Linked DNA regions of Homo sapiens. The protein of the gene in region 1 interacts with the protein of each later gene in a pairwise test. Each region holds a gene or a part of one and is shown in the gene's direction. Other genes may lie near its edges. The genes, in order: TM4SF1 and DNAJA1.

The links.
Region 2: the proteins of TM4SF1 (region 1) and DNAJA1 interact in a two-hybrid assay, tested with the Homo sapiens proteins (one large-scale study listed by BioGRID and IntAct).

Annotation. Positions count from the first base shown.
Region 1 is NC_000003.12:149,371,283-149,374,679, reverse strand, and holds part of TM4SF1 (transmembrane 4 L6 family member 1), read left to right. Parts: intron 1-2,812; coding exon 2,813-2,993; coding exon of another isoform or gene 2,994-3,013; exon of another isoform or gene 3,014-3,078; intron 3,079-3,397.
Region 2 is NC_000009.12:33,031,670-33,035,502, forward strand, and holds part of DNAJA1 (dnaJ homolog subfamily A member 1), read left to right. Parts: intron 1-2,546; coding exon 2,547-2,661; intron 2,662-3,833.

The DNA of each region.
Region 1 (3,397 bases):
AATGCCCCCTTTTTTAGTTATTAAGCTATATAAGTAAGGCCTATTCACAATCATAATATCAGGATAATTTGTGCTGTTCTACCATTCTATGTTGATACTTATTTTTTTTATCAGTTATCCAGAAAAGAACAGAAACAGCACAGCTGATAGAAACGGATGTATGTGGTGATGAATGGATGACATGTTTCTTTGAGCAGGAGTTGATTCTGAGTTTCCCTTTTCCCTACTCAACTTTCTGAAGTTGAATTTTGAAAGGTTTAGTTTTGAGATTCATGATTAAAAATAATATTAATAACAAATTATATTATCAAGAATGTTTGACCCCATGAATTTAAAGCATGTAGTGAGGATATATGAATCTCACAAATTTAGCACAGTTATGAGATCATGAATTTGAATTAGCTGGGTTCAATCACAGCTCTGCACCTATCTGTAGGAAAAGGTGAAATGAGCTCTCTGCATCTCAGTTACTCCACTGGTAAAATAAAATCAATGGCAATTGTCATGAGAATTAATGAAATAATATGTAAAATGTTCCCCACAGAGGCTGCCACATTGTGTGCAACTGCCACTGTTAGCTGTTAATATTAGCTACTACCTTACAATAAACATAACCCAATGGTAGCCTTTGAAGGAAAATTGATACTTACAGAAGTTTGAAATTTTGGTGTTCAAAACTGTGATCAATCATGACTCAGCTTTTATCAGAACATACTGGATGTACTAGTAGAAAATGGCTATTCACATATGTACAAACATACAAAACTATTGCACAAACAGACTTCTAAGAAAAGTCATGACTTATGCAACCAGAATGCAGGGAGAGGTGGTAGTATTGCTAAATGGTTTTTATAGCTATTTGACTGTTTGCCCCTCCCATTATCCACTCTGGATTCTACAAGAAACCTTCCTCCTCTTCTATGTCATTCTTCATTTAAAACTGTCCAAGGATTTCAATATGGGAAATAACTAACAGTCACAAGCCACAGGTTAGTTGCCTGGGAGCCAGGTGGAGCCAAAAATTTTTTTTTACATTGAGACCTGAAAATATAGATTTTTGTTCTGCTGACATGCAGAAAGACAGGGCCACAAAAACAGAACTTTTTTTGAAATGAACAACTATAATCTCTGATTGGCTCAATGAACTATTCTAAAGTTAGGTCTCAAATTCCAAGCCCCTTTGTTCTGTTGTGGAAGGAAGTCGTGATAAGAAAAGAATTATACCAGGCCTCTTTGTGGAATTAAGTCAAACCTTGATTTTCCCACATGATTGTATTATATTTTGTTAAGAATCCAAATACTCTGTAGCAAAGGCTGAAATTCTAGGAGAGCTATCAGAAGTAGAATTTTTCAGACTGGAAGAATATCCAGGTATTTATAAAATCGACTAAATCCTAGAATCTATAGTCAGATATCACCTCAGTATGGTTTGCTGACATTTCACAAAGCAACTTCATATTGTTATTTATCATTCAACTGCTTTTAAAATGTGCTGAGTGGCTATTGTGTGTCAGATACTGTTCTAGCGGCTGGATATACAATGATGAATAGGTCTGGCTCCTACCTTCATGGAGCTCAGCCTTATTGAATAGATACATAAGCAGCTGTTCTCCCTGGACTAGGTTAGATGCCCTTCCTCTGTGGCTCTTCCATATTTTGTTTACCGATCAGCATATCTGTTGCATTGAGATTACTTGTGACTTGTCTCTTCCTTTAGAAGCTATGCTCTTTCAGGACAGAGCCCGTGCCCTGTGCTCCATTATATCCCCAGCTCTGGCTCAGTGTCAGACTCACACTGACTGCTCAATAATCTTTGTTGAATGAGCAAATGCAGTGTGCTACATGCTATTATCAACTCTTGGGCACAGCATCATGAAAGTGAAGAGCTATCAGCCGGGCGTGGTGGTTCACGCCTGTAATCCCAGCACTTTGGGAGGCTGAGGCAGGAGAATGGCTTGAACCTGGGACGTAGAGGTTGCAATGAGCCAAGATTGCGCCATTGCACTCCAGCCTGGGCAACAGAGTCAGACTCCGTCTCAGAAAAAAGTAAAGAGCTATCAAATTAGTTGGGTTTAATCCCATGAATTTGCTTCCTGTTGCAAATTAATTTATTCCTTAAAAACAAAAAATAGCTTTGTTCCAAAGGTCTCAGTTGAAAAATTCCAGCATATTAAATATCCAAACTTGCCAGAATTTGGATAATTTTCAGCAGTAACAAATTGAGATGTAATAAAATGATCTAAATTAATATTTTAAAGTTCAAAAAAAAAACTAGCCTAAAGAGATTGTATTTTCTAAATATTCACTCAATATTGAATACAAATACCCATCTTTTATACCAATAACAACAATAAAATTGGAAAACAGTTTTAAAAAACACCTACACATACTCTACTTTAGCACATGAATTATTTTCATTTTTCCGCATTTGCTCGTAGTTTACTTCCTACACATACATGAATCTTACCTAGCTTTAAACACAGCACAAATACAGTTCTGCATTTTTATTTTTGTTTATAAGAATTCAGATGCCTGTTAGGGAATATAAATATCATTATAAGGTGAGAATTTCTGACCATGTAATCCTAGATTGGGGTCAAAAATTATAAATTATAATTTTATGTTTATCATTACAGTAGGATCTGGGCTAAATTCCTCCATTTTGTGGAATGACATGCAGTGGAAGAAACTTACACAGGATATTGAATAATTCATTCCTTTTTTCTGAATGAAAAACCACCAAACAAAAGTAGTTTATGAAGTATCCCCTCAAGTATGACCGTGTGTCAGAAGTTTCTCTTTTTACCCACAGGTACCTTCTGGATACCTCCACATGGTCCGAGTGCACTGAACCCAAGCACATTGTGGAATGGAATGTATCTCTGTTTTCTATCCTCTTGGCTCTTGGTGGAATTGAATTCATCTTGTGTCTTATTCAAGTAATAAATGGAGTGCTTGGAGGCATATGTGGCTTTTGCTGCTCTCACCAACAGGTAAGAACCTGCATGAAAATGTCGTAGTCTGGCCCTGGTGTTAATATACCATTGTTTTCATCATAAAGAAAAAGGCAAAACCAAACATGCTCGACCTACCAGCATTTATTCTGATATCATCTTTGTAGCAACACAATTATAGCATTCACTTTAGCTGTCAGTAACAAGCTTCCTCGAGTCTCACAGTCACAGGATTGTCTTAGTTCTTTGCAGTTGGCTCTATGTACACAAGAACATGCTGCCCATAGACACAGCGCTCCCTTCAGGATCTAATTCACTGCCTCTGCTCTCGCTGCAGAGACAGAAAAAAAAGTGATGTCTGCTCTTTGTTTGCTGTTATATTCCCAACTAGTATACATAAGTAATAGCCAACCATTCAATGCATCAGGCACTATGCTAAACCC
Region 2 (3,833 bases), on another chromosome or scaffold:
ATCTGCCTGCCTTGGCCTCCTAAAATGCTGGGATTACAGGTGTGTGCCACCATACCTGGCCTGGGCTAGTTTAAATAAGCGTATTGGCCCACTTAATTGGCTTACTTGCCCATCTATTATATTTAAATGCTCCGTTAATTGATTTGATAGACTACCTTTCATTTTTTTAGACTTGACACTTCCCTAACCCATTGGGCTCCAGATTTAGAAATAACTATATAACCTTTTTTTTGTATTCTCGGGATTTGATTGATTTGTCAATTTTTAAATTTTACTCTTGTCAACTTGCAAAAACATTTTAAAATGTATTACAGCAATACACTGCAGAAATTTTAAGAAATGTATATAACCCCAGAAGGAAACTTAAGTCAACATTATGGTAATCTCTTTTCAGATTTTGCTGTTTATAAATGGGTCTACTATTATACTGTACTGTGGTATGATACCAATCTGGAACTGTTAATATTTGAACATATTTCCATATTAATATACAAATCTACATTAACATAAGTGGCTGCAATAGGATTCTATCATGTGACTCATGATACTGGCCTCTCTGACCCCCAGGGTTCCACCCAAGAATGTAGTACATTGAAAGGTAAAAATAAGTTTCCTTGGCCAGTTGTTGAACTTAATAAATCTGTGTTTACCCCTTAGTGGGCCCATGCCTAAGGTTTATACTTTGAGGTGTTCTTGATACCAATAGCATACAGAGTAAGTCTTAACGTTGTTGATAGGTTCTTGGAAACTGGGACTTCTAGCAGAATGACCTCAAATAATGTCATGCAGGTCCTCAAATAATGTCATGTCACTGTAACACAGCTGAGGGGAAAAAAATTGGTCTTGTTATGTGTCATTTCATTTAAAGCAATTTCCAAGAACCTATCAACAATGGACTGTAAGTGAGAACTTGAAATTAATGCCCTAACTATATAGCAAGTGAAGGCATTTGTGCTGTGCCTACTCTTACTCTGTATTCAGGAAAACCTAGCTGAGTTTAATTGCTTCCCTAGCATAACAAGTTATTTTGCCTCAATACACGATTAAAGACAGATTGTTTAATTTTGTCAGTGTATGATACTGATAGCGCTTTAAGTCCTTATTTAAGAGGTACGTACTGAAGTATTTGTGGGTTAATGGATATAGTTGGAGTTTGCTTGAAAGTATATGTGGGGGGCATGCGTAGGGGTGTAATACATGAAATATTAGTCATGAGTTAGTAACTGCTGAAGCCAAATTGGATGGATATGTAGGAATTCATTGTACTGTTGGCTCTGTTTATACAGGATTAATATTTTCCATACGTAAAGGTGAAACATGATTGCTCTGTTAGGTAACCAGAGTGATCTTGGGAAATAATCAGGAGATAACTGCTTTGGTGTAATACTCTACAAACACAGGTTTTCTTACATGAGTTATGTTCTAAGAGACGTTGCCCAAACCCTTACTGAACTAAAATATGTGGGTCAGAGGTGAGGGGCACGAAGTCTCAGTTTAAAAAAAAAAAAAAAGGCGTGTTTTTTTGCCCTGTTAGAAAATACTCCTCCCCTTGTATTTTACGGACCACATGGGCTAAGGGAGTGTCTAGCACTGATTGTTTTGTTTGCTTGTTTAATTTAAATGAGACAAGGTCTGGAACTCCTGTGCTCCAGGGTGCTATCCTCAGGGTATCCTCCTGACTCGGCCTCTCAAAGTATAATTACCCTTTTTTTAAGGGGACTATACTGAATAGTTCTTTAAAATACGGATTTTCAGGCACAGGGGCTCAGGTCTGTAATCCGAACACTATAGGATGCCGAGGCAGGATCCCTTGAGCCCAGTAGTTCAAGACCAGCCTGAGCGACATGAGAACCCCCATCTCTATTAAAAAAAAAAAAATTCAAAAATTAGCTGGTCTGTGGTCCTGGCTACTCGGGAGGCTGAGGTGGGAGGATCACTTGAGCCCAGGAGATGGAGGCTGCAGTGAGCCATGTTTGTGCCACTGCACTCCAGCCTAGGCAACAGAGCAAGATCCTATCTCAAGAGAAGATTATAGATTTAAAATTTTTTTAGTTTTATATATAAATACTACAATAGAAGGGTCTTGATTTACATTGCTGTTAGACTTTTAATAGAAGTAATTTGATGTGTTATAAGTAATGAAACTGAAATACTTAATTAACATTTTTTGGTTATAACCAGTGTTAGCCAGTCATGGTTTAGTACCAGCATATACCTGTTGAGTTAATACTCTAAATATTGCTAATGAGGTGTAGGTGTCTGTGGGAAAGTTGAAACTTGGAAAGGATATGCAGCTTACTTCCCCAGGGTAATCCAGCCAGTGAATAGCAGCTCTGAGATTTGAAGGCTAGTCTCTTTGCCTCTGGAGTTTGTGTTCTCCACTATGATACCTTTCTTCAGGAGCAAATTGGACTGAACTACTTAAGTGGGCTTTCTTAGTCATTTCTGTGATTTTTATGCATAAACAAACATCTATGTATAGATTTTATGATTCTGACCTTAGTTGGATATTTAATAAAAGTACAAAATTAATGTTTTGTTTTTAGGCATGAAAGATGGCCAGAAGATAACATTCCATGGTGAAGGAGACCAAGAACCAGGACTGGAGCCAGGCGATATTATCATTGTGTTAGATCAGAAGGACCATGCTGTTTTTACTCGGTAAAGACTTTTATCAACCACTCAAATTGATATCACATATTTGGGTTGTTGGTTTTGTTTTTTGTTTTTTTGTTTTTTTTAAAGTGTTTTCCATTACTCTTAGAACCTATTTCTCAGGAAGATTGTTAACCATTGTTCAGATCATAAGAGGTTGAATACATAGGATCAGATTTTTAGCTTTTTGTCTCTAAGTATGGAACGTTGAAAATGTGTTTCAATTAGATGTTTTGTGTGAACCTAAGCAGCAGATGGGTGGGGAAAACATCCCTGGACAAAAATTTGCCCTCAATCTTTGTAAAGCAATTTAAGTGCCTTAAAGCTCTCACCAGTTTTCAATCTCATTTATGATAAATTGAATTGCTTTTAATTATAAATATCCAAAAGCATCTCTGTAGGAAACTTAAATTGTAACTCAATACTAAGTATAAATTCAGGTCTACCATTTTGAGCTAAATAATGAGTATGATGAACACTGAAGCACAAGAAAGATGGATGATTAACAGCAAATGTTTGTGATCCATGGCTAACATAACACCCTCTGTGCATGCTATATTCCCAGCAACTTGGGAGGCTGAGGTGGGAGGATCACTTGAGGCCAGGAGTCCTAGCTACTGGGGAGGCTGAGGCAGAAGAGTGGCTTGAACTCAGGAGTTCAAGGTTATGATCATGCCACTGCATTCTAGCCTGGGTGACAGTAAGAACCCACCTTTTTTTTTTTTTTTTTTTAATGGAGTGGAGGTGAAATTGGGAACATCTTAAACTAGTTTAGGATTAATTAATATTTCAGCTTGGTTTGGTGGCTTACGCCTGTAATCCCAACACTTTAGGAGGCCGAGGTGGATGGTCAGGAGTTCAAGACCAGCCTAGCCAACATGGTGAAATGCCATCTCTGTTAAAAATTAAAAAATTAGCCAGGCATGGTGGCAGGCCCTGAGGCAGGAGAATCACTTGAACACAGGAGGCAGAGGTCGCGGTGAGTTGAGATGGCGCCATTGCACTCCAGCCTGGGCAAAAAGAGCAAAACTTGGTCTCAAAAAAAAAGACTAATATTTTACAAATGTCTGAAGATAATGGGAAATGTTGTCAAGCTCAGGCTTTTGATGCTGTCATTTGAGAAGGGTATTAAAGATGTTTTATTTATTTATTTATTTTTTTTGAGATGCAGTTTCGCT